Homo sapiens: one gene and its partner. The protein of the gene in region 1 purifies or fractionates together with the protein of each later gene. This does not show direct contact. Each region holds a gene or a part of one and is shown on either strand. Other genes may lie near its edges. The genes, in order: FAM135B and ZDHHC17.

The links.
Region 2: the proteins of FAM135B (region 1) and ZDHHC17 purify together in Homo sapiens (affinity purification with mass spectrometry; 3 studies listed by BioGRID and IntAct, with this or other methods). This does not show direct contact.

What each region holds. Positions count from the first base shown.
Region 1 is NC_000008.11:138,124,237-138,141,078, forward strand, and holds the end of FAM135B (protein FAM135B), read right to left. Parts: intron 14,861-16,842; coding exon 14,750-14,860; intron 13,114-14,749; coding exon of another isoform or gene 13,073-13,113; exon of another isoform or gene 13,031-13,072; intron 13,025-13,030; coding exon 12,911-13,024; intron 8,563-12,910; coding exon 8,357-8,562; 3' UTR 5,787-8,356; downstream 1-5,786.
Region 2 is NC_000012.12:76,834,273-76,851,114, forward strand, and holds part of ZDHHC17 (palmitoyltransferase ZDHHC17), read left to right. Parts: intron 1-7,709; coding exon 7,710-7,834; intron 7,835-8,646; coding exon 8,647-8,709; intron 8,710-11,436; coding exon 11,437-11,530; intron 11,531-12,323; coding exon 12,324-12,407; intron 12,408-13,960; coding exon 13,961-14,118; intron 14,119-15,103; coding exon 15,104-15,198; intron 15,199-16,574; coding exon 16,575-16,713; 3' UTR 16,714-16,842. UniProt on the Homo sapiens protein: Palmitoyltransferase that catalyzes the addition of palmitate onto various protein substrates and is involved in a variety of cellular processes.

The DNA of each region.
Region 1 (16,842 bases):
GGTCCCCTTGGCCAAGTCTAAGCATGGGCATGCTTATGGACACTATTGGTGTGCCTTTTATTCAATAATCTGGTTTTGTCTATTAATTTGGAAAAATGTAAAGGTTGTTTACTGAGTATCCAGACTTTGTATTACAGACAGGAGGAGGTGCTTCTTGACGAACTGGTTTGTAATCTGCCCCTGTCACCTTCTGTTTTTATACATTCCCTATCTTGGCACTGATCTAGGGATGGCCCAATGGAGCATTGAAATCCTACACGAATGGTGTGGCTGATGTCATGGCAGCATCGCATCTGGACTGGATTTCTGCTTCCAGACCCAGATGAGAAGCCCAAACCCCAATACCAGGGATGTGATTTGCTTTTATCGATATCAGGATGATATTAGTCTCAATGTTTCCCGCTTGCTCTCTTGCCTCATTAATCTATCCTGCACTATGAATGCAGCCATCCTCTCCCCCAACTAGATTATAAATTATTGAATAGCAAAGTCACATCTAATTAATTTCTGTAACCACCAATGCTTAGCACAGAGCTAAGCAGAGACTAAACGTTTTAAAAACTAAATGTATTTAATATGAGTTATGGGAAAATTGTAAATGAAAATCAAATCACAGACTTTCATGTTAAGTTGTATGTAGAGAAGATAGCATTTGGGGATCAAGTGAAGTCTACTATTTAAAAGGAAATATATGTGTGTGTGTATATATATATATATGCAAAGATATAGGAATAGGTTATCAGATGCACCTTGATTATTATTCAGTTTTCTTTCTCAGGGCAAGAAAAATAAGCAGGGTATTTTGCCATATGCAATAAGTTTAACCTTGGGCTAAAGGACATTTCAATATGTCTTTGCAGTTTGATGCAATACAAAGGATTCTGAGTGACATTTACAGAATTAAATCTTTCAAACACCTTAAATTAGATGTAATACTGCTCTCAGCTATGTGTCAAGCTGCAGCCTTTCCTCAACTCTCAACAATGGTGTACAATATACCCTAAACAGAAAAATAGTTTTATGACATAGATCATTCAATAATGCACTGAATAGACCTGAAAACGTCCAGTCTGGAAGCTTGTGGAGTCACAGTGGAATGTTCTGATGGAAGCTTAAGGCTAAAGTTTCAAACCAAGTAATCTTCCTTAAGCCATCATGTATGAATCACTTTAAAGCCATGTAAGAAATCTCTTAATGTGTTTATTTCAAAGATACTTCCCTATAACCAACCTTTTGCTATAAAACATTCCCAAGCCACTCACCAAGCTTTTCAATGCTCACTCTGTAAAAGGCATTGTTCCAGATCTCTACTTTTCCTATGTTGTTTGCACCCCTGAACTACCTTTCAATTAGGTATTTCCAAGCCTTTCCAAGGAAACTGAGGCCTAAAGATAGAATGATGCTTCCCACTACACGAAATTCCACTGTGATGTCTGAAGAAACTCCTCTTCTCTTGCAAATTCAGAAGCTTAGAGAGTAAACACGAGCCAATGTCAAACTCTGCATTAGCAACAGTTGCTGTGGATGACATGAGGGGCTGGAAAGAAAACATGAGCTTTCAAAGGACTGACCCTTTCAGCAAAGACACATTGAACACCCACTCTGTGTCAGGCAGCGTGTGCAGGATCAGGTGTACTGGAAGAATTAGACATGGTTTCTGCCCTTGAGGAAAAAATATTCGTATGTGAGAGATCTATAGAGACACAGATAAAAATGTGATGAGAAATGAGAAAAGAGTGGGCTTATGGGAACGTGAGAAAACCTAGCTCTGATGGCAAGGCACTGAGCTCAAATTCATCCGGAAGCAGGAATCTGCAATCTAGGAACCATTTATTGTAGATTCAAACCCTATGGTAAAGGGAATGAATCCTGGATGAATACGATCAGGCACTGCAACGTGAGAGTTGCAGAAGGAGATAATGTATGGAAGGAAGAACATGGCCTGGGACAGCTGTGGAAAGAAAGGTGTGTGGTTTTGGAAAAGGAACTCCAGGTTACTAGGAGAAAAGAGAATCTTGAGAAACATAAATGATCAGCAAAGAATGCAACAGTTCATCCAACTACACTGTTGACAATGCTTTATATAACTACCTTTGCCACTAAGTTTTTCTTGCTGTTTAATTTATTGGTTATGTAGATGTCTCATATAAGAATATATTATAATAGAAGGCTCAAAAGGTTATGGTTTAGGAGATGTGGACTTGAACTCTGGCTTTGATTTTCACAAGACATGTGACTTTTACAATTAAGTAACTCTCTGGGTTGGAAAAATCATAGAATAAAAGATAAAATGAAGGCTAGAAGTTCAAATCTTGACTCTACCACTGCTAAACTGTGTAATTGTAGGCAAGTTACTTGACTTCTCCCAGCATCATTTATATGTTGTGTGGGATTAAATGAAACTATATATGCAAAAATCTAACCAACAAATTTGAATATTGTAAATTATTTCCATTTTTGTTCTTCTTCATTTGTTAAAAGTTAGATGGACAAGAGTCCATGTTTGTTTTAGTTGTAAAAGTTTCTGATTCTGTGATGACACAAAGTTTGAGGTTTGAGGACTGTTTTTCTAAAGTACTGTAATCACAACTACATCTATGAAACAATGATACACACAGTCTTTATAATTTGGTCATAAAGAGATCAAATATAGAGAAATAACCTGGTTTAATGATTCGCAAAACACTATTCAGCAACACCCATACATTTACATTTGATCTAAAAGCTCAGTTCTATATATTCTGCTCTTTCTCTTCTGTAACAGAAGTCACTGGGATCCTTTTCCCAATAATTAAAATGGATTATTACAGGGTTTGTGCACTGAAAACTCTGTATTATTGAATACTATATTATTTCCATTGAACATAAAAAGCTCTGGAGAGAGTTCCACTTTTCCAAATTGTCCATAGTGTTTTCTACTGAAACTTAATTAACATCACACATAATTGCCCAGGTGCCATGGAAAATCAAGCTAGAAACAAGTAAAGAAAAAGGTAAAATTGATAAATAAAGGCAGAAAGGGAGGAAAAAGCACAGAAATCCCGAGAAAGCCACCTTAAAGAGTTTGAAAAATCTCCATGGTGGTTTCTCTTCATTTAGAGAGTATATGTGCGTGTGCGTGTGTGTGTGTCTATACACAATATTGTATATAATGTCACCACAATGACCGTGCTTTGTCATATATAGATCAAGACCTGTCTGGTCAAGTGAAGCTGGAAATGCACAGTTCAGGATATAGACATCAGATACAGTCTATATGAAGCAGCCCATTTTTCCTCTTCCAATTCTGATATTCATTATTTTAGACACCAACAGTTAAAAGTAAAACACGGCCGGGTGAGGTGGCTCACGTCCGTAATCCCACCACTTTGGAAGACCAAGGCAGGCAGATTGCCTGAGCTCAGGAGTTTGCGACCAGCCTGGGAAACAAGGTGAAACCCCGTCTCTACTAAAAATACAAAAATTAGCCGGGCGTGGTGGCATGCGCCTGTAGTCCCAGCTACCCAGGAGGCTGAGGCAGGAGAATCACTTGAACCCGGGAGGTGGAGGTTGCAGTGAGCCAAGATCGTGCCACTGCACACCAGCCTGGTGACGGATCCAGACTCCGTCTCAAAAAAAAGAAAAAAAAAGTAAAACACTCAGTTTTATCATTACCCCAGATCCTTCTAGTGTCTAGGATGACATGATTTCCTAGTACAGTACCCAACACAAAATAGATGTTCAATAAAACATGTAACAAATAAGTGAGTGAACAATTGAAATAAAATGATCCAGATGCTAGCGTGTAATGCTATATTGGGATGGGTGCCTTGCGAGAAAATTAACAGAAAGCGTAATTGTTGTTCTATGTGTTCTTTGCCATGGCCACACTTCTTTTTTCCTTCAGGACCCCCACAACTGTCCCTAGCAGCCCTGGTTATTTCTAATGCTCAGAAATATATGCTGTGAAACCAAAGCTAATGGCATGGGGGAAAAAAAGTAGCAATTACATTCAGGAGCTTGCAAATACCTGAATGCAAGCTTTCAAATAAGTAGCCATGTGCGTAGAGAGAGATGCCATCATCTTACACAGCGAGAGCCAGCTGAACACTTGTTCGCCTCCTAGCACTTTTAAAGGCTATTTTTCTTCTTTACAGAAACACCTTGGTTATGTGCCATTATTTATAGTGTGTTCTTTGCCATTCATGTACTACATGGGTGATCTCCCTGTTGGTTTCTCCCAAAGCTCCTTCTGGACATGGGCTTGGCCACACTCACTGTGCCTATAACTTTCTGCTCTCTGTCTACTTTCCCCTTGCATGTATACCCTCCATCAGGATGGGAAGATTATTTTATTTTATTTTAGCTTTACGACCAACACCTGGCTTGTGCCAGGCTATTAGGAAACATTTGTGGCCGAAGGAAGGACTATAGTTTTGACTAAGTTACCCCAAGCTTGTGGGGGCTGCAGACTGCTTAACTGTAAGCTGAGGATTGAATAACTTTCTTTATAAAATTTTTATGATCAAAAGCAGCTTGTGTGATCACCTTAAATACCAATACAAGAATTTCACTTTATTGCTTCCATGCATTAAAAAAAAAAATTTTAACCAAATGACTATTCCCTCTTCTTAGCCTGTTTATATAATGCCATTTGTTACAGTTTTTCTCCATGAGAAGCCCAGCAGACATGTCTACTATGCTTCTCAAAAGAAAATTTCAGAAATGAGTGATGGTGGAGGATGTGGCTGGACTTCTCCCAAGACAGGAGGGATCAGATCTCTAGCAGAGGGTGAAGCATGGAGCGACACATGATGGCAGGGGCAGGCCTTGCTCTCCCAGGGGCTCTCCTTACCAAGTGGAAATTGTCCTGCTAGTGTTAACAATGGAAATTTCCTCCTGATAGAAGAAGAAAATCCTGCATGGCAGCTGACTTCTCACACCTCTGTTTTGCTACTTTTGTGCTCAACCATATTCTCCATCTGCCTTTGCAGTGGTCAAAGGTTCCCAGCCCTCAGCTCTCGCCTGAAGCCCTCTGCTCATTCTGTCCCTCTTGGAGGGATCCACATAACCCACCTTCGCCGAGCCGGCTCCTACTCAGCCTTCGGGTCTCGGCTTAGACACCAAACCCTCCCAAAGGCCTTTCCTGACCATCTCTACCCCACATCCCTGCTGTAGGTGGATGCCCCTGCTCTGAGCACACACAGAACCATACCCCTTCTGTGGGGCCACCCACTTCGATTTCCCATTTGATCAGCTGTGTTCCTTGCTAGATGGTAAGCTACTAAGTTTTACCAATGCATCCCTGGCACAGAGTAGGTCCTCAAGACAAACTCGCCAGATGAATGAATGAATGATATAATGGAAGAGTGCACACTGGGGTGACGGGCTGTGCAAGGTAAATAGTCTCACCTTTCAAGTCTCACTCTCAACGCTTCCTTCCTGGCCTTCCCCAGGCAATAAGGAGTGGATACCTAGGACCAAGGAGCACCAGCCCCGGCCTTCCTTAGCGCTTTTGTTATATCCCATTGTGATGATAAGACCGGATCTCCCTGGAGTTCCTGGTCAGCATGGACTGTGCATTTTACCTCTGTGCTCCCATCTGGCACAGATGGATGGAAGCTGCTCAGTAGATACCTGTGAATTGTGGAAGCCAACAGGGGGCTTTTCCGTCTTCACCTTCTCTCAGGTTCACAGCACTCCCTCTGCTTTCAAACTGCCATTGGGGTATTTGTTTTGCTACAAGATGACTTTGGGTTCATACCTGCTTCCCTGGATTTATTTGGCTTATAAACAACAAATTCCAATTAATCTCAATATTGGGCATTTTTATTTCTAACTCATTTTGGGAAACAACAAATCATAAAAACAAAAACAAAAATTACGCAGAGAATGAAGACATACAAGACCATTATCTTGGCAGGCATTTTGTTTATAATTTTTACAATCAATAATAGAATGTCCCTGTTTTACATAATATATATTTATATATATTTTATGTATATATATTTATATATTCGATATCTATATTTCAATAGAAAGAGACATAAAAAAGCCTTTTCAAATGAGGCATGACACGCAACACTCGACACTCTTATTTACAATATAGAGATGTACTTTCTACACAATTATAATAGATGCTCAGAGGCCAGAGAGGGTTTACAAAGACAGCAGAGCACCCCTATAAAAAAGAGGTGCACCATGCAGCTGGACGTTTATTGCCATTAGTTCTCACTATGTCCAGACAGCATATTGAAGTTAAAAATGGCATCTGGTTATTGGAGAAGATGATGATCATCAGATTCATCCCGGCTCCATAACCGCGGGCTACACAGTCTTTCAAAGGACCAGGGAATGACGAACATTGCTGATGAAAATTGGAAACACAACATGAAATGCACTCATCAGAGGGACAGGGCCCATCATTTGGCCAGAAAGGAGAAGCTGCTACCAACTTATGGTTCTGTACTGAGCATGGGCACTTGCCTAGGTCAGGAAACACAATACCATGTGCTGCACGACTAGGGAACAAATGTCTCCCAGGTTACAGAGCAAATACAGCACTCCTCATGAAGAACCAGAGTCTATGCCCAGCTCTGACTCGGGAGCTCAGATAAAAATCCCCAGTGGAAAGTGACCAGAGGACTCAGTGAACCCATATGCATTATGACCAGGATATAACAAGCATTTAGAAAGGACTCACTGAGAAACCCTAAATCCATTGTGTGGAACTCTGCCTTTGCAAGACATTCAACTCTCCCTCAACGACCCTCTCTTTCTTCAAAAGAATACCACATGTCTACACTCCTGCAAAGCTGCCCATCTGGACTCATTCCCATGGTCTGCTTTTATTTTTCAAAGTCACATTGTTAACATAAGAGGATCTAAAATTCTCAAATGAGCTTAGATTTACTTGGTTTTGTTACCATGGCATCAGTGACCTAGAGTCATGGTCTAGGTATTGAGAACCCTGGTCCTAGATGCGTTTCCACACTTCAGAAGGGATTTTTGCAGAAGCAGGAGCTTTCATCTCCAAAAGATTAGGCTCCTGTCTTACTTATCCCTACTGTCCAGGTTCATTCATCTCTTCCATACAACGAAATGATTCTTTAGGCTTACTTTAGCCCATACAACATACTCAGTCTTTGAGACCTGACTATTAAACATCCTGGTAATTTTCAAAACTCCCCTTTGAGTCACTTACCAATAACAGCTTATGTTGAGTCTTCAGTCTGGTTGTTCTCCTCCTATCTGATCTCACTTTTGTCCCTGTCGTCTATTGGTTTTTATCAACGCAGTGACCTTTCCTAGCCCTTTATTTTCCTAAGGCAAGAAGACATTTCTATTGAAAGATAGCCAGCACCCTTCTTAGAGCTCCCCTGAGGTTTTAATCCAGCACTCCTCCATTTAGATGTTTTCCTCCTTCCATGGAGAGGAGAAGCAGCTGGCCACTTTAATGGATTTAATTTTTTGCAATTGCATCAAATGCTAACATAGCATGTCTTTGGAAGTGTATCAGCAGGAGCTTCACACGTGTGTGCATTCATCTCAGTGCCCCCTTCTGCTAGGTTAGTCTCACTCAGTGTTCCCTACTACAGACAAAGATGTAAGCAATCACTAAAATAATTTGTGGATCAGGGCTCTGCATAGAAGAATTCTGGGGAAGTAGGTGGAGCAACTATTCATAGTTCAGTATGTCCCTAGAGTCATGTTTCTTTGTAACAAACTTGTATTTACCAATAGTGTCACCTTTATCCCTCTTTACCTTAAGTCACCCTGCTCACTGCTGTTATGAAATAGAACTGGGATTTGTAACACATTCCTTGCTCCCTTGTTTAGAAAACATGAGGAGAGAATATGAATATGGGCATCACATTTTCTTGAACAACTGACACATTTGAATCTATTGAGGATTCTATTTACACAAATATGTTCCACTGCTGCACAGAGATTAACCTGAGTTCTGAAATGCTTGTGTGCACTTAATCAGAAATGATAAAGCTATAAGCTAGTAACATATTCGGCAAGTCTAGTTAAATTGGAGTAATCTCTCAGTAAGCCAGTAGTGGCTAGCAAGGGGAGCTCACCAACTCCCAAGTATTCTGTTTATTCTCTCATATTTTTCCTAGAAAACATCTTGAATGACACTCCAGGTAACTATACAAATTCAAGCAAAGTTTGTTGTCATTTAGTCTATTTGCTCAGCTTTCTCGAATCTCCAAAACAAAAGCACCTCTCATGTCAGGTTCCACCCGAGCCTCCGTCCCCCAATGCTGTTGAAGCTTCATTCTGAAATGGTGAGGTCTGTAAAAGCAGGTCTCAGCTAAAGCTCTCCACCGATCGTAAGCATTACCAAAGACCTGCTCCCTCAAAGCCACTACTTGAAGTAGTTGAGTCCTGCCACCAAGAAAAACTTCTCCAGGAAGAGTTCTGAATCCAGCACAGCGATGTGAGCGGCTCGGCCGATCAGGGTGTTGGCAGTGTTGGGCAGGGCGTGGAACACGTTGTGTCGGATTAAAGTGCAGTCCTTGGCTTCAACCAGAGGGCCCAGGAGGTTGTTGATCATTTCTGCATAAACTGGCCCTGTAAAGTGGGGAAGAAGGACATGAAGCTGGTGCAGAAATTAGCAGTGGAATCTAGAGAACATCACTAGATGTGTGTCGAAATTCTGTTCCTGGGCAGACCTGTTATACAGCAGTTTCCAACCTCTTCCTAATGTTAGTGAAATTAATATGAAATAAAATCAAAGTTCTCTTTTTCTAGTCAGATGACAATAGCCAGAAGTCAGAAGGGGATTCCTAATAGCGGCTTTATGAACCCATGCACCGGAAGTTATGATAGCAGTGTTCGTGTTTCTCAATAATAGCTGTACCTCCCAGCAGGGTAGCAGAGAAGGAGGCCAACACCAGAGAGGACCCTCAGAGTTTCAAGTTCTATTTCAGGGGATCTTGGGGGTTGGAAACACAGCTCAATAGAGAATTGAAAGCAGACATTTTCTGATGTCATGCATAATGGAAGCCATGTGGCATTTCACCCGACTCCTCTGATTCCAAAGAAGGAGAATGCAGTTTTCTTTATGTTGGTTTGTTTTGTTTTTACAATTGTTAGTCTGAATTGACTGTTTCCACCTGAAAGTGACACAGTTGCAATTTTGCTTCAGGCCATGGAGGTCTTGGAGCCATGCAGTGCAATTGAATTGCTGAACAATAGATAGATTTGCACACCTGGATCTACGATTCATATCTCCCAGCCCTGTGTTCTTCTTTTCTGAAAAACTGTTTATGACAACTTTTGTATCATTGACAGACACTTTCTGGAATGATCCTGAGAGCTGGGATATTTTACTTTTGACCAACTGGGGAGACAGTAATTGGAAGTTGTAAGTCAGGTGAGCTTCTGGGTACCCACTCCAAACAACCGGGTCTGTTTTACAAAGCCAGTAGAGCAGTCACTTTGGATGATGAAAGAGAGCTTATTCTGAGTTTAACAGTCCACAGCCTCACTCTGGACACTCTCTCATGCCACGTGAAGGAACTCAACACCGTTTTCCTTTTCCCTCCAGTTATCAGCAGGGGAGAGTACTTAGAGGTCTGCTTTCCCAGACTGGGATGGACAGCTGGACCCCCCCATCACGCATGGGGTATGTATTTGGGGGTGTTTCTTTTCCCCCCCTTCTTAGGGTCTTGGTAGGAGCTTTGACGTAAAGGGAATTGTAACGTGAAATTGAAATAATTAGGGATTTCGTTGTAGCCATGTCAATTCAGCTAAAAAGAATTTGGGGTTAAAACAAATGGTATGGTCATTCCCAAGAGCCCATTAATGTCTTAGAGTAGCGGTCATTACAACAGGCAATAATATGATGTGAGGTTATGCCACAGTAATTTTATGTATGAAATAGTCCTTCCAAGGGAAAAGGGAGGTCAGCCAAATTCAGCATCAGAGGAATAGTTAAGTAAACCATGCTTTGTGGGCTAAACAATTCTGTGCTCCTTTAAAATGATGTTTATGAACATTACGTAATAATATTTTTTAAATGATGTATGTGAATATTATGTAATAACAAGAATAATGAATAAATGTTGCCAATAAATGGAAATAGAAGCATATATTGTTACACAAATACCATAATTTGTTTAAATTGTATATGCAATAAAGGTCAGAAGGTCATTTATTTAAAGAAAAAAGTCACTCAAAATGTAGTGATTACTCAACCAGATCATTTTCTGCTGAGACCTTGATTGGTTTCATAAGCCCTGGAGGCAATCACTGGTATATTTTTTAACATTTATAGCAAACTCTTATATGTTTTCTCAAATACAGCACTGTTTTTAAATTGATGGACTTTTGGGATAGGGGCAAATTATCTACATGACAATGTAGAGAATAAATTGGAAGGTTATGTGAAGTCAGAGAGGTTGAGAGGTATTTTATTTCAGAATTTTTGAAAAATAAAAATATTGGTACTTCTTCCAGAAAAAAAAAAGTGATAATCATGTATAAACTAAACTTCATATCAAGTCTCCCAATCTGTTTAATTCACCAATTAAGCCACACTTCTTTGATGTCCGTGTAAAAATGTAACAGAAAATATAAGTTTAACAAAAGAGAGGGCGATTTTTTCTTAAGATGACTAACAGGAAGATTAATCAATTTAAGTCATATATTAATATCCTTTGAAGATACACTCCCTTTTCCTTAAATGGCCATTGTGAATATCAAATAAGATAAGCAAAGCGCATGAATTGTGCCCGGCCCATAATAAATACAATTTGCTATGCTAGAGCAGGAGTTGTCAGACTTTCTCTGTAAATATTTAAGGCTTTCCAGGACGCGCAGTGTAACTACTCAACATAATTCTGAATTCTAGCGTGAAAGCAGCCATATACAATATGTAAATGATGGGTGTGGCTATGTTTCAATAAAACTTTATTTACAAAATGAGAGATGGGTTGAATTTGGCTTGTGGACCATAGTTGTTGAACTCTGTTCTTAAGGCTTTACCAAGGTTGAAATGTCAACAAAAATATTTCTCTATGTCAGGGAGACAAGAAAGTAGGCAAGGAAAATTAGCAAATCCCTGCACAAAGAAACAGTTTGGCTGTCTATTGACCACAGCTATGTTTAGTCAAGTCTGAACTGAAAACCAGATCATTGACTCTTTATTTATTGTCACAGGTCTTAGCATATAATGATGTCCCATGGGCAATTAGAAAATATTTAAAAATGGATTAAAAATATACATAAAAAAGCATCAATATTTAAAAATTCAGGCTGAAAAATTATAAGCAAATATCTTTAAATTAATATTTAATCTGAGAGACAGTAGAGTGAGATAGGCAGGCACGAATATACTCTAACAGTACACGTGTTGCTGGTATCAATATTTTAGAAGGGAATTTGGCAAAAAACTTTAAGAGTAGTAACTCATTAACATTTTCCTCCAATAATACCACTACTAGAAATCGATTTTAATGAAATACCATAGATGTATTAAAAGTTTACACATGCAAAGTCTTTCATCACATAATAACTAAAAAGGAAACCTTCCAGAAGCAAGCTCTATGTGCAGTAATTGAGAAGTTGTTAAATTATGGTATATGCATATAGTCTATAATTATTAAAATGTGTTTGTATTTATGATATTTTATTAACATGGACAAATAACTATATTACTCTAAATCAAATCATGACACAAAATTATAACATTTATCATGAACACACATGAAGAGACAGACTAGAAGAACACGAAAAGTAGGTAGTGATAGAGGTGGAGTTAGAAAGGATCATAAATTATGTAAATGAGTTTGACTTTTTCAAATATTCTATAATGTTTTTAATCAGAAAAAAAGAATCATTTTAGAATATGCCCTGTGTTACTTTTCATTACATATACTAGATGGTATAAAACACAATGCTATTTTATGTATTAAAACTAATTTTTAAAAATTTTTTCATCAAAATTCCTGTTGGATTTTCTAGATACCAGGGAAAATTTGGAATAGACCCAATTATATATTAGCACCAAATCTTTGGACCTTTGGTACACTATTTTTTGATAGTACCTTAAAATATAACAAAACTACTATTTACTTAAAAAATAATCAATATGCCTGACATAGAAATATACAAATTAGATTGGATTCTGGAAGAGAAAGGGGACATTAGTGGACACTGACATAATTTAGATAAGGTCTAGAAATTAGATAATAATATTGAATCAGTATTAATTTTCTGATTTTGATAATGGTACAATGGTTATGTAAGATGCTAATATTGGGCATCAGAGTGAAACGTATGCAGGAATTTTTTGTACTGTTGTTGCAACATTTTTTGAGTATAAAATTGTTTCAAAATTAAAAGCTAAAAACATGTTTTTAAAAAAAAACAATTAAACAAATTAACCAAAGGAAACCACAAATGCCAGCCCACATCCATCTTGATTGTCTGGAAAATTCCTACCTATCCTTTAAAACCTAACTCATTGTCATCTCCAGGGATCCTCGTCTGACTCTGTCCTATGTCCTGTTCCACTTCTGGGCTGCCTTAATGCCTTAGGCATTATTTTATTTTTTGACTTATCACATTTTACTCTCATTGCTATTACTTGTCGAGGCTCCAACTAGACAATGTGCCCCTTGAGGGCAGGGCCTGTCTCATTGAATTATACATCCCAGTCATCAATTTCAGTGGCTGGCACACAATAGGACTGAACAGAAGTTTCATAATCTAATAAACATGTGACTGTTTATTACACAAAGGAAGGATCTGGCACAGTAACATCGAGATGAGCTATGTTTGTCCTATCACTAAGCTAAGATAAATGCAGCACTAAACCTATAGCCCAGGTGTTCCCAATAGGCAGTCAATTCCATGAATTTACTTTTGCTTTTCAAATTAGAAAGTCCCTGAGCAAAAATTAAATGTAGCTTACCTGTGTGTCTGTCTTTGAGGGCAGTTTTACACATTTCAATCCTGGCTGAATGAAATGGCACATAACGGTCTTGGGGAGAAGCAACCAGCACGACGTTTTTAAAATACTGCAGCCCTGTAAAAATTAGCCAGATGAGTGCTTTTTACCCAGGTAGTTTCAACTTCAACACCCTCTGGAAATTTGCACAAATTTCCAGACTTGTCCTATAGAGAGAAAAAATGTTGACACACCACACACTAGTGTCATCACACAAGGACATTCTGTCCTGAGGTTTAACAATGCACAGCAGATGGCATAGAGGTATCGCGGGGGCCTATGGGAGGTTGAGAAAAGAAGTCACTAAGCAGGGGCTTTGCGTTTGTGAGGGGAGATGAAGCCTGCTCTCATCAGCCATGAAAGCTAAGGAGACACACAGAAAGCTACTCTGGACACAGAGAAATAAGCAACTAGAATGGGACCAAAAAAGCCTTTTGGGGATAGAAATATTAAGGGGTTCATAAGGAAAAGTCAGTCTGACTATCTTGTTCTTCCTCCTCAACTCCAGCACCTCTCCTAATTCCAGCCTTCACCACGTCCCATGCTTTAGGAAAACAGCCTCAGAACTCACCTCTCTGCAGCCAGTCTTGCCTTCCTGCAATCTGTCCCCACAATGCAGACAGAGGGACCCTTCAAATTAAACATCACAGTGTATCCCTGCAGGCCTCAGAGCCCATCGTGAACTTCCTGAGCACTGCAGACTACCCGGACACTCCATCTGTACTGAGACTGTCCTTCTCATTCCCCAGATCCTGCTGGGTGGGCGGCTGTCAGCTCTTAGCTATGTGTGCCCTACTGAAGTGTGGGTCCCCTCATCAGACATCACACATTGGGGGCAGCCTACTTCAACAGCTGGCCAATACATGGGCGAGGAAGACAAAGGTGTAATGGTCAGCCCCTCCCCTTCCTTCAGGACAGCTCTCCAGGGCCACCCCAGCTCCTGCACCCCTGATGGACTCTACAGTGATCACACTGCAGTCCCACCTTCTTCTGCCAAGCCCTGCCTCCCTCCTCCTCCTCCACAGGAGATAGCTCTAAGAGCTCAACTCAACACACAGAGGCAGAAAGTAGGAAAGGAACTCAGCCAGGCTCACAGATGAGCCCGTGGCTACACCAGATTCACAGGCACAGAGGGATCAGCAGAGTCAGTGTTTACAGGACGGTGGAAGATTGTGACCAAGAACAGACCCTGGGCCAGGCCAGCTTGTGTGGTGGGACTGAGCAGGGCAATCAGTCAGCTGCTCCACTCGCCGACTGGACATGGGGACCACTCGGCAATGATCACCATTACTGCTGTCCTCTGTGGACATTCCCATGTAGCAGGTAGGGTCTTCAACACCTCTATGCACTTCCACATGACAGAGAGAGGGTGCAGGTATCATAGCAGGCCTGCCTGACAATGACCCCCGTCTCCCACTGCACAGTCAACATCAGTGGAAAATGTTGCATCTGCCTTTTTTGTAGATGGGCCTGTACCTGGGTGAAGCTGGCACACAGATCTTAGGCCTATGCAATGAGAACATTGAAAAACTGGCACAAAGTGGAAGCTACAGCTTCTGGCTATTGAAATGATCTTACACACACCTTGGCTCAATCTCTCACGTGCCATATGGGCAATGGGCAAGAGGAGCTGAGTTCCTGGTAGCTGTTGGCCTCCCAATGAGCCAAAGAGGCTTTGAGTGCTGGGCCTCCTGACTAGGCCCTTCTGTGAGTGAATCAATGTAGCATTATATCTCATTTGTGTCTCAGGAGTTGAATCCCAAGCTCAAACTCATAACTGCAGCTGTGGGGGAAACCACTGACCTGTTTTTTGGCTTAGTTGGTAGAGGAAACATTTGCGCAAATCAGCATTATCCCTGAAGGTCAGCTGCAGTAGAGACCCGGATTTCTTCAGTTTCTGCATGAGCCATAAGCCTAGGAAGACAAAAACAAAATAAAAATCAAAAACACAAAACAAAACAAAAACTAACTGGGATGGAATTTTGGTGAGATGAACGTTAAACTGAATTTTAGTTAACTTGAAAATAAGAGAGAAGTAGGCATACTAGCAAATAGTTGGGAAGTTAGAGGTAAATTTGTCCTCTCACGTACTGGTGGAAAGGACTTAAATCATCCTGCAAAAATGATGACAGGACAACAGCCTTCGGAGTAAGAAACTACCCACACTCTTCAATCCAGTCAATCTCCTTCCGAAAAAGAAGCCTAGGGTAATAATTTTCAATGCGAAAAGAATATAAAATGATCCTTACAGATACATTTAGGATACAGTAAAGCTAAAATAAATGTCTCACTTCACAACTCATCTGTTGGCTGGGCATGGTGGCTCATGCCTGTAATCCCAGCACTTTGGCAGACCGAGGCGGGTGGATCACCTGAGGTCAGGAGTTCGAGACCAGCCTGGATAAAATGGTGAAATCCCGACTCTATTAAAAAATTAGCCAGGCATGGTGGCAGGCACCTGTAATCCCAGCTACTTGGGAGGCTGAGGCAGAAGAATTGCTTGAACCTGGGAGGCAGAGCTTGCAGTGAGTCGAGATTGCACCATTGCATTCCAGCCTGGGCGACAAAAGCAAGACTCTCTCTCAAAAAACAACAACAACAACAAAAATCTCATGCGTTTAGCTAAGCTTAGGCAAACACTAACATTGATGAGTGTAAGGATTACATAACCACAACAAGCAAATTAATCTGATAGAAACACAAGGAAATAAGCAAGCTATGGTATGTACATATATTACACTGACTGCTACGTCAATGTGTGTGCACAAAGATAAGTAGAATGAAATATATAAAATTACTCTGGATATGCTAGATTGGAGATATTATTGGTAAAGTCTGTCTTTTTAAAAAATATTTTATGATGCTGCAAGATTCCTTTATAACTGTGGGGGAAAAATGTAGTTTAACAAATTTGTTTCTGTCCAAAGAATGGCTTCCTTGGTTTGGGAGGAAAGACAGAGTGCAGAGGAAAGGACTTCCATTTGTTATGTGCCATTGTGTCGGATAACTCATGTTCACAAGTATGCCATAAAATAACTTAAAAGCAAACTAACTAAACTGACCAGGCCATGAGGAAACAACGTTAGTGTGGGAGAGGACAGGGGACAGTGGCAGAGGCCTGGAAGATTGCAGGGACAAGGAAGCTTATCAGGGGTGACCCTAATGCCACATAATGGGTTTGAACAATCAGGGACTACTGAGGTAGTTGTTAAGAACATGATTTAATAAACGATTTGTTATTACATATAAAACTCAATGCCCTCCTTGGGCTTCCATACACCAAACCATGTCACCTCCTCAGTAAAATCTCATGAGTAGTATCTACAAGGTCTACAGGGTAAGTCTAACATATTCTGGAGTCAGTCGAGGTCCTTCTTTGTCTGACTCTTGCTGATATATTTAACCTCCCATAGATGTTAGTCAACCTTATTTCCTTCCCCTGTGTAATCTTCAACAATTCTATGATACACATATGCACATATGCACCTACACACCATATATATGTATACATACTTACATTGTGTACATGCTTGTACACATACATATATGTATACATACATATACACAAACACAGATACACACACACATAACCTCCATTTTACAAACAGGAAGACTGAGGAGCACAGAGATTAAATGTCTAGGCCACAGTCTCCCTCAAGTGTCCTGGTCAGGACTTAACCACAGGTTTGTCATGCAGGTGGCCTGATTCAGAGTCCCTGTTCTCTTCATCACAACACCGTGTCTTGTCAGTCTTTTCCAACCAGGACCCCAGAGACATTGCCTTTTTTTCACAGAAATTTGAAGGCAGAAATGATCCTGGAAAACATCTAGTGTCACCTCACTCAGCCCCCAGACACAAGGGCCACACCTCTAAGGCCAGGACTCCTCCCTCCATG
Region 2 (16,842 bases), on another chromosome or scaffold:
AGTATAGTCAACTGCTTATTGTGTTGACAACACTTTTGAAATATTGACAAAAGTTTATTAGAAATTTTATGTCTGAAAATAAGTAATTTTTCAATGTGGCTTTAAGTTAATTGAGCTTCTTTAAACTCAAGAAGGATATAAACTGTGCAGAATCTGGGATGATTACATATATTAAAAAATCAAGAATGTGCAGAATTAGTTATCTCCCATGCATTCCCTCTTAAGCATTTTTTTCTGTAGGTTACTTGTTAGACTTCTCTGTTTTCTGTGTATCTCTCCCAGTTTCCTTTTAATACCCTCTAAGCTTTTTAATGTCTATCTTCAGTTATCCAATCACCACTTTTCATGAATTTTAATAATATTGCTGTATATCTTTTTTTCCCACAAGAGTTTCTCTGAGGTTATTAAAGATATTCTATAATTTACATTCTCAATCATGTGCATTTGACTACTGTAAATGAAGATGGATGTGAGGGGAGGGATCAGTATCTTTTTCCCTCCATTAGAGAGGTCCTTGTTCCAGCACACCTTTTCTTCACTCAGTTGCAGTCTCAACCTTGATGTTCATCATGTTTCCTAGGTACACTGGTTTATTGATCTGTCTGCCTGTATTAACACTGTATAATCTAATTACTGTAGTTTTGTTCTTAAATTATATTGGAGCAGGGTAATTTTTCCAAGTTTGTTATTTCTCAGGAATATCTTAGCTCTTTTTGGCCTTTTGCTCTTCCATTTAGATTTTTTTTTTAGAATAAGCTCTTTGAGTTCCGCGAAAAGCCTTAGGCCTTTTTTTTTTTTTTGGCAGTCTTGCTGTGTTGCCCAGGCTGGAGTGCATTGGCGCAATCTCAACTCACTGCCACCTCCACCTCCTGGGTTCAAGCAATTCTCCCACTTCAGCCTCCTAAGTAGTTGGAATTACAGGCATATACCACCATGCCTGGCTAATTTTTGTATTTTTAGTAGAAAAGGGGTTTTACCATGTTGTCCAAGCTGGTCTTTAACTCCTGAACTCAAGTGATCTACCTGCTGTGGCCTCCCAAAGTGCTGGGATTACAGGCATGAGCTACCATGTCCAGCCAGTCTTACGCCATTTTGATTGAAATTCTATTTGAGCTGTAGATTAATTTACAGAAAGTAACTACTTTTGATACTTAGACCTTTTATGTTTTTTAATGAAGTCATATAATTTCTTATGTAGAAGTTTATATCTCTTGTTAGATTTATTTTTAAAAGAATTTTAATTTTTTTAAATTATGAATTTTTTATTTTTAATTAAAATTTCTGTTTGTGTCTGGGTTATAGAAATGTAGCTGATTAGTTATTGACAACAACCTTGCTAAAGCCTTTTATTATTTCTAATAACTTGGGGTATTTTGGATATATGACATGGGGTAATCATATGTATAAAGACTGAATTTTGTTTTTCTTTCTACTCTTTATAGCATTTAGCTCCTTTAGTCATCCTATTTTATTAGCTAGGATCTCAGTACACTGTGGAATAGACACAGAATGAGCATCCTCATTTTGTTCCTGACTTTAAAGGGTATCATCTTTAAAAGATTGACTTTAAAGGGCTAGTATTTTACCAGTGAGTGTGATTTTATAAAGTGTTTACTTGGATTTTATAAATAACCTCTCCCTCTACACCCCCTTTTTTTTAACTTTTTGTGAATTGTGTATGTTTTTTTCTTTATGCTTTTAATATTAAATAATATATTAATAGATTTTTCTAATGTTGAACCACTTATGCATGCCTGGAGTAAACAGACATGGGCATAATGTCTTATTTTTCTCTACATTGCTGGATTAAATATGTTACTAGTTTTGCGTGTACATTTGTGAATGAAATTGTCTTATAATTTTTTTGTATTGTCTTTGTTATGTTTTGATATCAACATGATAGCCTCAAAATGGGTGGAGACTTGTTCTTTTTTTATGTTCTTTGAAAGGGTTTGGGTTAAATTGAAATTATTAACTGCATGTTTATTAGATTTTGTAAAATCATTTTACCTGGAATTTGCTTTATGTTAAAGAATTTTGTAATATATAGTTTATTTGACTCAATTGTATATATATATATATTTTAGTGATTTGTCCATTTCTTTTCTTTTAAAATGTGCTACATTCTCTCTTGTTTTTTTAAACTCAGCTGCTGTGCCCCCCTCTCATTCCTGGTATTAATTAGAGCTATTTTCTAATCTATTTTATTGGATTTTTCAAAGAAACAACTTTAGGTTTTATTAATCCTTTCTATTTTCACTTTCAGTATGTTCTGTTTCCTTTTGTCTGCTTGTTTAGTTTTTTCTTTAGCTTATTAAATTGTTTAGTTTTCATTGATATTTTCTATTAGAAACATTTAAGTTTAAAAAGTAACATTTTGTATGCTACCTCAGCTGCATTCCATACAGAAGATTAAGCTTCTTAATTGGGTTGCTCAAGTCACTGTATCATTACCAAATTTTTATCTGTTTGCAGCATCATTTATTGAGCGACCTATGGTAAAATCTTCTACCGTGTTGCTATATTTAGGAGGTTCTCTTTGTGGTCCATATTTTGGAGTTTCATTATTAAGTATGTGTAAGTTTAGAATTCTTTCTAATGAATTGAACCTTGTATCAATATGTAGTGACTCATGGTAAAAAGCATTAGCAATGACTATTTATTTTAATTAGTATTGCTTTAAATAATTTATGGCCTTGAATTTTCGACATGTCTCTTGCAAATAGCATATAGGAATAAGCAAATCCTGAAGAGTGGACACTACATTTCTGAACCAGTTTACCTTTAGATTTTGTTTATTTATCATCTCTGGTCTCCATGGGGTTTTCTTACTAACAGCTCAGCAACACATTTAAAATGATTCAGGTTTTTGTGTTTTTTTGATACAGAGTTTTACTCTGTTTCCCAGGCTGGAGTGCAGTGGCGTGATCTTGATTCAGGGCAACCTCTGCCTCCCAGGTTCAGGTGGCTCTTGTGCCTCAGACTCTCAAGTAGCTAGGATTACAGGCATGTGCCACCACACCTGGCTATTTTCTATTTTTAGTAGAGACAGGGTCTACAAAAACTAAAAAAATTAGCCGGGTGTGGTGGTGCGTGCCTATAGTCCCAGCTACTCAGGAGGTTGAGGCAGTAGGACCCTTTGAGCCTAGGAGTTCAAGACTGCAGTAAGATATGATTATGCCACTGCACTCTGGCCTGGGCAACAGAGTGAGACCTTGTCTCTGTTAAAAAACTCTTTACTTAAGAACACATTTGTTACCATTGAGATTAAAAAACAACCAGTATGTTTCAGAGGATGTTAATCATTGTCCCTCAGATTTTCTTAATATACAGTGTGTCTTTTCAGGATGCAGTATTTAAAATGGAGGTTATATTTGTATACTATATGTAATTTATAAAAATGAAGGTTTTCTTTTATCTGAAATTTTCTGTTAGGATCTCTGAATTCTGTTTGATGTATTTATTAATTCTGGGATAAAACTATCCATGTGTTGAATTATCTTTGTCATCTGTGTTCATACTTTTGTCTCTACTCTTTATTATTATCATTATTATTATTTTTTGAGATGGAGGTCTCACTATGTTGGCCAGGCTGGTCTTGAACTGCTGGGCTTAAGTGATCTTCTGGCTTTAGCCTCCTGAGTAGCTGGAATTATAGGTGCATGCCACCATGTCCAGTTTTTGTCTCTAATTATTGTTTTGAGTTTTCTTTTTTCCCTCATTTACTGATTGTCAGTGTTTTTATCCTCCTTGTGTTCATCTTTATAAATTTTTAGTTCATATATTGTATAATGGTTTTTGTTTGATCTCAGTCTGTTTTTTTTCTAGAATCACGCTTTTCATCTGGTTCTAATTGTTTTATGATCTTATGTTTAAGCTTTTATAGGATTTATATTTTAATTTAATTATGAAGCATCTTTGGTTAATTTGCCTTTGTTCTTAATTTGTCTTTGTCCAAATTTGCGGCTGCTTTCCATACTGGGTTATTTGCTTTGTGAATGCTGTGCACATTTTTTCTGGTTTATTATTTTTGTTTTGTTTTTAAGTACACTAGCATAGTTGTTATGCCATTTCTTTTCATCTTTCATCTTGCTCGTGATTGACCTGGGCAAATATATTCAGACTTTTATGTTTTCTCTGATATATTTTAGAGTAATCTTTGAAGTTTTTCCTGTCCTGTTTGGTACAAGGATATTGAAGTTGTATGTCTGCCTTCAGTGTTACAGTTTGGCTAAATTTCTATTCATTTTTCTGTAGCCTAAGAAAAAGAGAGCTCAATTGTAAATTCTTGCTGAGAAACTTGGGTTTAGCTGTCTTAAGATCTTGCTGAAAGTTTTTCCTGAGGTTTTATTCTACGCAGCCTTAGAGATAGAATGATGTCAGAATTATCCCCCACCAGCCATCCCCTCAATTTTGTTAAGTCACCTTATTAATGACAAGCCTTGGTATTTCTTGATACTTAGTGGAAGCCATGCAGTGGTATTCAGGGACTTATGTTCCTGAAGGGATTTTCTTGACTTGTTCAAATTATCTACTCACCATTTCAATTATTTTTCTCCAATTGAGTGGGACTGAGGAGTGGAGTATGTATTAGTCAGTTCAAGCTGCCATAATGATATACCAGAGACTAGGTGGTTTAACAACAGAAATTTGTTTTCTCACAGTTCTGGAGGCTGGTAGTTTGAGATCAGGGTGCCAGCAAGTTTGAGTTCTGCTGAGGGCAGTCTTTGTAGCTTGCAGATGATGACTTTCTTGCTGTGTTCTCACATGGTGAGGAGAAAGAGGAAGAAATCTCTCATTCTACTTTATATAAGGAAGGCCACGGTCCTATTGGATTAGGCTCCCACCCTTATGACTTAATTTAAGCTTAATTGCTTCCTAAAGACCACATCTCCAGATGCAGTCAGATTGTAGGTGTTAGGGATTCAACATATGCATTGTGAGGAAACACAATTTAGTCCATAGCAAAGGGCCAGGGTGAAATGGGTGAGAATTCACATCTACAGTTTTTCATACTGCTAGTACAGGTAGAGCAGGATTAGGAGCTACCTCAGGCAGCCTGCCTCGCCAGAATCATCATCTTTTTTGGCCTTCAGTTTTGAACTTTATGATACATGTGGTCTGTCTCCTTTCTGAAGTTGTTGCCAGTATTTTGAGAGGCACTTGGTTTGTTTGATTTACTGTTTTTAATTCATTTTGCTGAGTATTATGGTAAATAAATTTAGTGTATGAATTTCTATTTTTGAAAGAAAGCCTAGATAAATTTGTTTAAAAATAAAATGAGAGCTGCATTTCATAGCAGACATCCAGAAAACATCCAACTAGATTAAAGAATTAAATGTAAAAAATGATTCTATAAACATTTAAGTGAAAACATTGATGGTAAATACTTGTTTTGTCTTTAATTCGGGGGCTGTTTAAACATAAAAGCAAAAATGTAAATTAAAACGATAAAATAGCAGGTATTTGCCTCTTAAATTGGCAGCGTTTTTTCATTACTGCTAATGCAAATGTACTGATCAGTCGTGTTGTTAGTGGGGTTATAAACTGGTATATCTTGCTGGAAAATAGTATAAAAGTGTCTGTGTATATTTATATCTCAAGCCTTAAAAATGTTTATACCTAAATATATTGTTTCCATAATATTTATTGGCATAGGAAATTGTGTTGAGCACTTTGGCGAGGCCGAATAGCATAGGTCATATGAGTCTGAGTTTTAATACTTGCTCTACCTCTAACTCACTCTGTAATCTTGGACAGTGTAGCTTCTGCTTCAGTCGTATCATCTGTAAAGTGGGGATAATAGCAGGATTTATCATAGGGTTCTTGTGCTGCTTAAATGGCACATAGTTGGTGATTAATATATTATTTTGTTAATAATTAGATACATTATGATACCAGTCATAATTAAAAATGCAGAATACCAAAATTAAAAGAAGTTTAATTCTGGGTTGTAGAGTTCTTGTTTCTGTCTTTATGCTTTTTTTAGTGCTTTCTCATTTTCTCTAATAATAAAATTAATACTGAAAACAGCCATATATTCATAGAGTGTGCCTATTTCCATTAATTTTTTTTTTTTTTTTTTCCGAGACTGAGTCTCACTCTGTTGTCCAGGCTGGAGTGCATGACGTGATCTTGGCTCACTGGAAACTCCGCCTCCCAGGTTCAAGCAATTCTCCTGCCTCAGCCCCCTCAGTAGCTGGGATTACAGGTGTGTACCACCATGCCTGGCTAATTTTTGTATTTTTAGTAGAGACAGGGTTTTGCCATGTTGGCCAGGCTGGTCTCGAATTCCTGACCTCAGGTGATCCACCCCCCTCGGCCTCCCAAAGTGCTGGGATTACAGGTGTAAGCCACTGCGTCCAGCCTATTTCAGTTAAAATTTTAAAATTAGCTCGTCTAATCTATTGCTAAAGCTAAATTCAGTCTACCATTTGAAGATACCTAATTTCTTTATCATTAAAGAGCAAGGAAAGACATTTTTAAAGTTCATTCAGTATTTAATTCCTTAATATACCTTTCAAATATGTAGTCATATATTGAGCTGACCCCCTGCAAATTTAATCCAGGTCCTGAGAGTTTGACTTATTTATTTACATGTTACGTTGGCACCTTTTCAAAACTTGTGATAAATAAAAGTGCTGCCCCTGAGTAATGTCAAGCCTCAGCATTCTGCACACTTTATTCTCCAGAATAAACAGCTGAAAGTTTGACTTCTTATTTACTCTCTGCTGGCTATACCGGTATATTTTGTGGAATAAGATTGGAAAAAGTTGGGGGAAAAGAGAGGATTGGAGAAAAAAGGAAAAGATAAGTCACTTTTGAATATGCCAGGTGATAATAACTAATCTTTTCTTCCGTCTTTTGTTTCTCCTGTATGTCAAGTGGCTATTGAGTGTTCTGGTATTTTCCAAACAAATATAGAATGATTTCATTCAAGAAGCTGTTCTTTTTCTATCTGTGCTTCATGAGAAATGTAAACAGTGGGTACACATGATAATGTCAAAAAGTCTTATGAAATTCTTGTATAATACTTGTATCTACATACAATCTTACAAATGGTATTTGAGTATACCTGGTGTTTTGTGTCTCAGAAATGTATTGCTCTAGCGACATTGCTGTATTTTTTATAGTGTTATTTAAATTGTTTTTTGATAATTTACTTGTGTTTATAAATGCCTAGTATATTTCTTACGTTTTTATGAGATAGAAAAAATGTGAACATATAAACTATTTGTTTTAAGCAAGCTTATATTTTTTCTGAAATCAATTTCAGTGTGTTCAAAAAAAGGCAAAAGTGAGAATTTTTCTTTTTTGACTTTCCTATAGTTAAAAGCAATCTTTTAAATATACGAGTATGATATCTGTAATATTTGGTAGATGCCTAAAGATTGCAGTGCATATACATAAAGTATATGTTAATAACTTTGAACATGAGAAATCTCTTCATTTTTGTCAAAAAATTAGTCATTTAAAAATTTTCATTGACTTTTTAATATATTCACTAACTTTTAAAGTGTCAGATAAGTCTGCATGATTTAAAATTTATAAAGAAGTCACATTATTTTTACATGTAGTTATAAACATAATGCAGAACAGTTTGTATTTTTTTGACTGGTAGGTGTTTTGTAAAATTTTATAGATTATAAGTTTATATATAATAGTAATTCATTTATCATTGCTTCTTTAGATTCCTTAACCTTAGGCACATCTCAACTTTTTATTTATCCATCTTCCATTCCTTGCCAATAGTGTTGCACTTTTCTACAATTTTGGAAAATCTTGGAAATCAGATCCAGGGATTATTAAAGCAACAGAAGAGCAAAAGAAAAAGGTAGCAAAATACCAACTAAGTCACTTGTATTTAACTGCCAGATTATCAGTATTTACAGCAGACATTAGAGGACAGAGGAATTAACTATCGTTTAGAATGTAAAGAAGTTTTAAGCTAAATTGAGATTATGTATCTTTTATTTGGTGCTCATCCTTGGTGCTCTTGTGATGCCTGTCCATAACACTTCCATGACATTTTATAATTTCGTGTTTCTCTCCCTTACAAGACTGCTGTGATTGCTTTGAGGGGTGAATACGGTGTCTTAAACATCTCTGTAAATCTCCAGGAAATAATTTGCATTCAGTAGATGTTTGCTGAATGACTATGTAAACTAGAAGGTTAATAAATTGGTTGATAGTGCAGGTACACCATCCCAGTAGCTAAAATATTTGTATATACCATCCAGGGCATCCCTTTCTTATAATGCAGGTAATTAGGAAACCAATATTATAATCTAACAATGTTGTGTATTTAGAGAACTGGACTAGAAGCATTTTAGATTATTTTAAGAGCTGTTTTATTTAGTCTCTAAAAACAGGACAAATTTTGATAAGTTATTCCAGTCCACAATTGACTAAGACAATGGCAGATTCTTATGGTCTAATCCCCTTTTTTCTGGGCAGCATAGAGATTGCTACCCTGTATTCTTCTTGCAATGAAATAGCAGTAAATAAAAGATTTTATTTCTCTTTTTGAACTCAAAACATCAGTAAATTAAAGATGAAAATCATGTTTATTGATTCATAGTGGTGGCAAAAGAGTTGGTGAGCATTGTTCAGTTTTGAATTAAATATTATTTTTTTAATTCACAGACAATAGTTGAACTTGCAGAGACAGGAAGTCTGGACCTCAGTATATTCTGCAGTACCTGTTTGGTAGTATTTTCTTCTTTGTTCTTCCCTCCCTTCTCTTCCTCCTGACAGTGGCATAGCATAGCGGGTATGGGGTGTGGGGAAAAGGAATAATTATTTTCAATGAACACATTCCCTGCTTCTTGGTATAAGAGGAAAGATGGTTAAAGGATGTCTGCTTCCCAAGGCGCTTATTCCTCGATGGTAGGCCTTGACTGTACTTTTGATTCGGAGGTGCCGTTTATTTGTATTCATTCTCTTTCTCTTTTCTCGCTTAAAATGTTAATAAATTAAAAACTAAGTAATAAAGTATTTCAGATCAAAGATTTATAATGATTCCCTAATAGATTGTTTTCTTTACTACATTTTAAGAAAATTTATACTTGTATTTAAAAGCCACATGGGAAAATCCATTAGATAACTGTTAAGACAACATGGCCTCTAAACAAGTTCAATTTGAGTAGGTGGTTTTTTTTGTTTTGTTTTGTATCAGAATGTTTATGTAACTTTGAACACTGTTTTATCATAGATTTTTAAAGTGGTCATCCTCATCCAGGTCATAGGTAAAGATATATATGAAATTACTAGTATTTATTAATAGAGTCAGGTATAGCACTATTGAGATTGTTTATTATTATAGACATTAATTTTCTGTAGGATAATACTCTTATGTTTAAATTATTTTTCACTTAGTTTTTATAATTAGTATTTGTGAAAAATATATATACTGCCACAGTGCTTAAATTATGTTTTTCTACATGGAAATTGAAATATTCCAAAGTCATACATAAAACTAAATGCTCTTTTATACTTATACACTGCAAGTGAGCTCATGTCTTAGCATCTGATTAATAATAAAGTCATTGACTTCATTTAGGATTATGGAATGAAGTTTTGAAACAGTTCTAATTCTGAAAATTCTTTATTACACTTAATATTCTTTGACCAGTTATGATTTTGAATATTCAAAATATATACAGCTTCATGTTTGGTAGCAACTTTAGGATACCGACCAGATTCTTTTATATATTCCGGCATTCTGAAAACAGTTTTTGTTTCTGTGCTTTACAATGGGTAATTTACAAAATTGATATTCTTTTTCTTAATATTTAGAATGTTTTAATACACTGCTGTTCTGTGGAAATATACTGTTCCACAAAGTATGCAGTGCTGATGTACTTGCCATATGGCAAACAAATTATATAGTCATTCAATACAGATAGCAGTTTCATTGTCAAATACATATTTGATGGCAAGAATAAGACTAATTTTGTCATCATAGCATAAATGTTTTATTATATATTATTTATAAGCCACATACTTCTTGTTGTAAAGAAGATTTCCTATTATAAAATCTTGCAGATCAGCAGAGGTAGTTGTCATTATATGGGTATGCTTCACTTTGGTAAGTAGACAAGTCCCTAAGGCTTGTAGATCAGAGCTTTCTTAAAAACGAATTACTTTGTTGATTGCACCCCTGCACTCCAGCCTGGGCCACAGAGTGAAACCCTGTCTCAAAAAAAGAAAAAAGAAAGGATTACTTTGTAAGTGATCCAAGGAACCTTGAGACCAAGTCACACCTTAACCAGTTAGTCTGTTTTTCAGATTTTTGACAGTGTTGCAGCTGAGGGTTGGAAGTGGGGATAGAAGTTGTTTGAATATCCTGCTGCCTTCTCCTAAGTAGATTTAGTCTAACAACTGTGGTGAAGAATAACTTACCCTTTTCTTTATTCCACAGATAATTTTGGTAGATGTAAGAACTGTGTATTCACTGTGCCTTTTCCTTGGTACCTCAAAATAGTGTGTAACTTTATGCAAACTAATGGAGAAATGGCAGTGCTTTTGTTGAAACGCTGAAGTATATTTATAAATTTTTTTCTGGCAAGAGTTAATAACTGCAGCTCTTTTATCATATGTCTAGCATTAGGACTGCCAGCCCTTTGAAGATCACCAATGAGTTCTTGTATTCACTTGGCTGATTTAGAGTAATGTAGGTTTTAAAAACCATTTCAAAATGCTTGAAAAACAGACATCATAAGCATGGATTCTTTATTGCCTGTCAATAGCTGAATAATGAATTATATGGGGTTTTTTTTTTTGCAAGAAATAGTGACTTCTTAAGCATGTTCTGCATTCTTAAATATGGTCATTTCAGCAGGAGAAATGCTGTACCTTAATCTGAGATCTCAGAAGGCACTTTACTGAAGAGAAATAGATGTGTACATATGGGTTTTTGCTGGATTTGTTAATTTGGGGAAGACAAATATTTTATTGATGATTTTGAATTTTAAGAGCTTTTTAAATTCACTTTTAGCCTGACCTTCCTAGTAAGGAATAATTTTATTTTATTGAAAAACACCAATATCATGACCATTAATCATAATGGAACATCATTTAGAAGACTGGAGATTGATATGTTTTTATTACTCAGAAATTTGAGGGATGTGAATTAAACATAGCATCATTCATCAAATCAAATTGGTAATTCTTAGCTTTTGTAAATTGATGGTTCAGTTCCATTCTTAAGAGCATATTTTCTAGAGTAGCCTCATTCTTTTATTCTTTGTTTTTGCAGTTGAAATTTTATTAAACAATAGTGACTTTTGGTTTCATTCATTTGGAAACCTTGATATAATCTTGTTTAAAAAATATAGTTTTATTTTTTTATAATTATATTTTGAGAAAATAAATAGTCAGCTTTTCTCTCTTAGTATAATGCCTTTCATAATCCTTTAACATGCCTATTAACAGATACGAAAACCGGTGAGGTCCAAACATTGTGGTGTGTGCAACCGCTGTATAGCAAAATTTGATCATCATTGCCCATGGGTGGGTAACTGTGTAGGTAAGTTGTATTAGTAATTTCTTCTGTATCATTCATTTAAGTTACTTTAGGTAATGAATAAAGTATAATATTAAAGTAGGCAATAGAAAGTTTATTACTCCACGCTTCATTTTCTCAGTTATCTTCTGGTTGACAACACAGCAACTCAGTTGAGAGAGGGAGGGAAAAAAATTACAAAATTAGTGGCTGATACCTTTTCTCTGTCAGTTCTATCTGGTGCCTACTCTTGATAAGGAGGCAAAATTTTTTTTTTCTAGTTAAACTAGAGAGATGAAGGCGGTAATATTTGAAATGATATTATGTGCAGAGGTAGAGAGGAATGACAGATAAGAACAGTACACACATTAGTGTTCAAGAATGGTATAGTCTAAGGAGAGAAACTACATGGTTTGAGACATGCCCCGGAGATTTTATGAGGTGACAGGAAACATTACAAAGATTGTTTACCTCTGTTGAAGAGAAACCTTTGGATTGTAAAGTTTATAAAAGTAAAGATAAAATAGGGCTATTTTAAACCTCACAAAGAATAGGATTAGAGGTCAGAATTGTGATTTATTTAGTTCTTTGGGACTTGAACACCATTGTCATCATTATATCTTTGTGTGTAATTGCAAGCATTCTTATTTAAGATTTTTATTAAAACATTTTTCCTGAAAACCACTTTATAAAATAATGAATGTATGTGTGATTATCATCAAAACTGTAGCACACCTTTCATGGCATACCCCTCAAAGGTGCATTACCCGTTGTTTTTTTCTTAGCTGAAAAACCTTGCTTCTGTGTCGTTCTTCAGGTGCAGGCAACCATAGATATTTTATGGGCTACCTATTCTTCTTGCTTTTTATGATCTGCTGGATGATTTATGGTTGTATATCTTGTGAGTACAATTAGTTTTCGGTCTTTTTAAAACAAATTTCTGCATACTTAGATTATACTTACCACACTAACAAATTACTATAATGACAAAGGTCGTTTAACTAAAATTATGGTTTGGACACCTTATGAAGCACAAAAGGGAAAAAAGATACAGCTCTATCAATTATGTCCAATATACAGTGTAAGCAAACAGTTAGCAGTTAACCACCTTTTAATACTTGTGTCCTCTGAAAAACATATTGGTTTAATAGGCTTTGAGAAGCTTCTGGGTGAAATACATCAACATTTTCCACATCATGTGCTTGCTTTACTATAGTAGCTTATAGATTAAGTGATTGTCTTAGTTCTGTTTCTTACCAAGCAGTTGGGAAAATATACTTAAAATTAAATTTGCAGAGAATTTGAAATATTTTGAAAAGTAAGGTATAATTATTGCCTATTAGAGAATATTAGTAAATATCAGAAGTTACCTTTTTAAGAATAAGTTGTTATTCCATCATGTGGGTTTTATACCTTAAAGGAAATGATAGATTTTTGTTGCATTGAGAATGCAGTCTGGAAAGAGTTTAAGTGGATACGTCACTTACGATGCCTCAGGGCTTGGTGGTGCTTGGCATAAAGATGTATTAGATCCTCGTTTAAATACAAGTCTTGGAAGGATGATTTTCTAGTCTTCCTGCCCCACAGATAGTAAAAATAATCAGTGTTATTGCCCTAATGAACCAAAGGAGGTTACCACCTCAGTTAAAGATTAATAGGAAGATTTGGTCAAAGAACTTGACCTAATTTCTGGCCCAGCACACCTGAGGAGAATACTTTCTTGCCAACAACAGCAGTATTTTATAGCAACTCTCCTACAGCAGGAGATTTTGTATTAGGAAAGGCCTACCTTGGCTGGGCATGGTGGCTCATTGCCTATAATCCCAAAACTTTGGGAGGCAGAGGCAGGTGGGCCAGTTGAGGCCAGGAGTTTGAGACCAGCCTGGGCAACGTAGGAAGAGAGACCCCATCTCTACAAAAAATACAAAAATTAGCCCGGTGTGGTAGCGCATGCCTGTAGTCCCAGCTACTCAGGTGGCTGAGGTGGGAGGATTGCTTGGGTCCAGGAGGTCGAGGTTGCAGTGAGCCTTGATTGAGCCACTGCACTCCAGCCTGGGTGACAGAGCGAGACCTTGTCTGGAAAAAAAAGCTCATGTCACCATCCTATTATGTTATATGCCCTCTTTCAAAAAAATCTCTTTCATATATCCTCTCATCTTTGTGTAAAGAAAATGTTTTTCTAAGTATTATGTGATGCAATACCAATCAAATAAAATTGTTAATTCTGAAGATACAGTGATTTTTTTTTAAGATTGGCTGCTCCTTTTCCATTTCTGTGTTTTTTCACTGAGATATAATAGGGTTATTTAAGAGTATAAAGACATTTGCTATTGAATGTCATCAGTTAAATCTAGACTGTTTGACTATGTTTTCTAAATGGTGCCAGCACAAATGCCTATATGAGGTGCTTGGATGATTATTGAGTAAATACGAGTACTTCTGTTCTGGCTTTAGACTGGGGACTCCACTGTGAGACCACTTACACCAAGGATGGATTTTGGACATACATTACTCAGATTGCCACGTGTTCACCTTGGATGTTTTGGATGTTCCTGAACAGTGTTTTCCACTTCATGTGGGTGGCTGTATTACTCATGTGTCAGATGTACCAGGTATGTGCAAAGGCATTCTTTTTAGTGCACTAAGTGAAAACTCTTCCATCCTTGCATAAAAGATAATAATATATTCTCTTCCTAACCACTCCTGCTCTTCAAATATTCATTTTATTTTTCAATTTAGTTTTCCTTTCTACCTCACTCTTTTGCCCCTTCCTCTTCTCATATTGTGAACTTTTGAATTTTAGTACTTATCTCAACAGAAATTTTAATCTGTTATTCCTGACTTAAATACATCCAGTTGAGTATGTGTGAGCTCAGATTGATGATGACATTAATTTTGTGTTTTTAATGGTATTTTTATTCACAAATACTAATATTTATTCAAAAGCCTTTTTTTAATTTTTAAAAGCTCATTCTCAGAGAGGCTGATAGGGAGGTTGTCTGTGCAGGAATAGCGCCTGTCCATGCACAGTGTCAAGTAACCTGTCTTTAAATATTTTCCACATTTAACTGGCTACTTTTCACAGTCAAATGATACCACGTAAACTAGTTCTGATGATCTCCTGATGGAAAACCAAAAACAGACTTCATTGTTTTTATCTTTATCCTAGTTTTCTTCAAATTAATTTTTTTATATTAAGTATTTAGAAAGAATAATGGTTTGTGCAGCCTGGCATGGTGGCTCACACCTGTAATCCCAGCACTTGGAAGCCGAGGTGGGCGGATCACTTGAGCCCAGGAGTTTGAGATCAGCCTGGGCAACATGGTTAAACCCTATCTCTAAAAAAAAAAAAAAAAAAAAAAACCCAACAAAAAAAAGAAAATTAGCCGGGCATGGTGCATGCGCCTGTAATCCCAGCTGCTGGTGGGGTGGGGGTTTTGGGGTGGGGGGAGGTGGCGGGGGTGGAATCACTTGAGCCCACCCAAGAGGGAGCTGAGAATTCGCCATTGCATTTTAGCCTGGGTGACAGGGCAAGGTCCTGTCTCAAAAAAAAAAAAAAAAAACAAGAATAATGGTTTGCTTTTTCTTTCCTCTTAGATATCATGTTTAGGTATTACTACAAATGAAAGAATGAATGCCAGGAGATACAAGCACTTTAAAGTCACAACAACGTCTATTGAAAGCCCATTCAAGTATGTACATATTTATAAATTTAATATTTTACCTGGTCATAAAAATTTTCTTACTAACCAGACTCTTTTACTTAGTGATATGTAAAATAGCTTTTAAACCTTTTTAAGATTTCTGTAGAAATAGCATCAGTTCACCATAATAACAACAAAACAGAATTCATCACATTAACTGTATATAATAAAGTTGTGATATCTCCTTATATTTTTTTCTTTTTAATTTTAAATTTGTATTCAGTCTGGTGCTTAGAAATAGTAGGGTCCTAAGTATATGAAATATTTAAAACTTTGAGTTTTACTGAAGTTATTACCAACTCTTCAGCTTTTGTGGTGCTGTCAATTATGGCATACTTCTGGAAAGCAAGCAGACCTTTAAATAAAAACAGAGTTAGTTGGGTAGTTTTGAGAATTCTCCCATAGGTACAAAAATTATATAAGGCACAAAACTGACTGCTTTTCTTTTCTTTTTTTTAGACAGAGTCTTGCTCTGTCACCCAGGCTGGAGTGCAGTGGCATGATCTCGGCTCACTGCTACCTCCACCTCCTGGGTTTAAGCACTTCTCTGCCTCAGCCTCCTGAGTAGCTGGGATTACAGGCATGCACCACGCCCAGCTAGTTTTTGTATTTTTAGTAGAGATGGGGTTTCACCATCTTGGCCAGGCTGGTCCTGAACTCCTGACCTCATGATCCACCCGCCTCGGCCTCCCAAAGTGCTAGGATTACTTACCGACGTGAACCACTGGTGCGCACCTGGCCAAAACTGACTGCTTTTCTAAAGGTGTTACTGGAGTACTAAAATTTCATGAACTTATCCTTGACATTTCTTTTTTAAGTTGTTATCCTTAGGTTCACTGCCAGATTCATGCTATTTATAATTATTTTGTCTTTTACTTTTTTTCTGTTTTAGAGATAGTTTGTCTCCTGCCAAAGAGCCACTAATTAAAGGTTTTTATCAAAAATTACATATGGAGCCAGGCATGTTGGTGCATGTCTGTAGTCCTAGCTACTTGGGAGGCTGAGGTGAGAGGATTGCTTGAGCCCAGAGTTCGAGGCCAGGCCGGGCAACATAGTTAAGACCTCATCTCTAAAAATAAAAATAAAAATGCATATAACACAGAAAGTATATGCACATTTGAATAAATTTAAAATATAATTGTGTAAGTCTTTAAATTGGCAAAAGAAAAAATCATTGTTGGCAGAGCAGTGGAGAAACATGAAGGCATATATATTTTATAGAGTTATGAATTGGTTCCTTCTTGCAAGTAACCTGAGTTTTTAAGTTTAGAAAAAAATATATTTAACACGAAAATTATATTGAATTCATGTATTAAATCATTTGTACTGACTGACGTGTTTTCTTTTTGGGGTGCTGTTTTTAGCCATGGATGTGTAAGAAATATTATAGACTTCTTTGAATTTCGATGCTGTGGCCTCTTTCGTCCTGTTATCGTGGACTGGACCAGGCAGTATACAATAGAATATGACCAAATATCAGGATCTGGGTACCAGCTGGTGTAGCGACATCTTATCCTATGAAGCATATTGCTGAGTGGTGCCTGAAAATTGTGTCTGTCCGTGTCTTTCTCACACTCGAATCCACATCCTTTGAACAAGAGCATGCTATGTGTAGGGCTAATGGTGAATTTT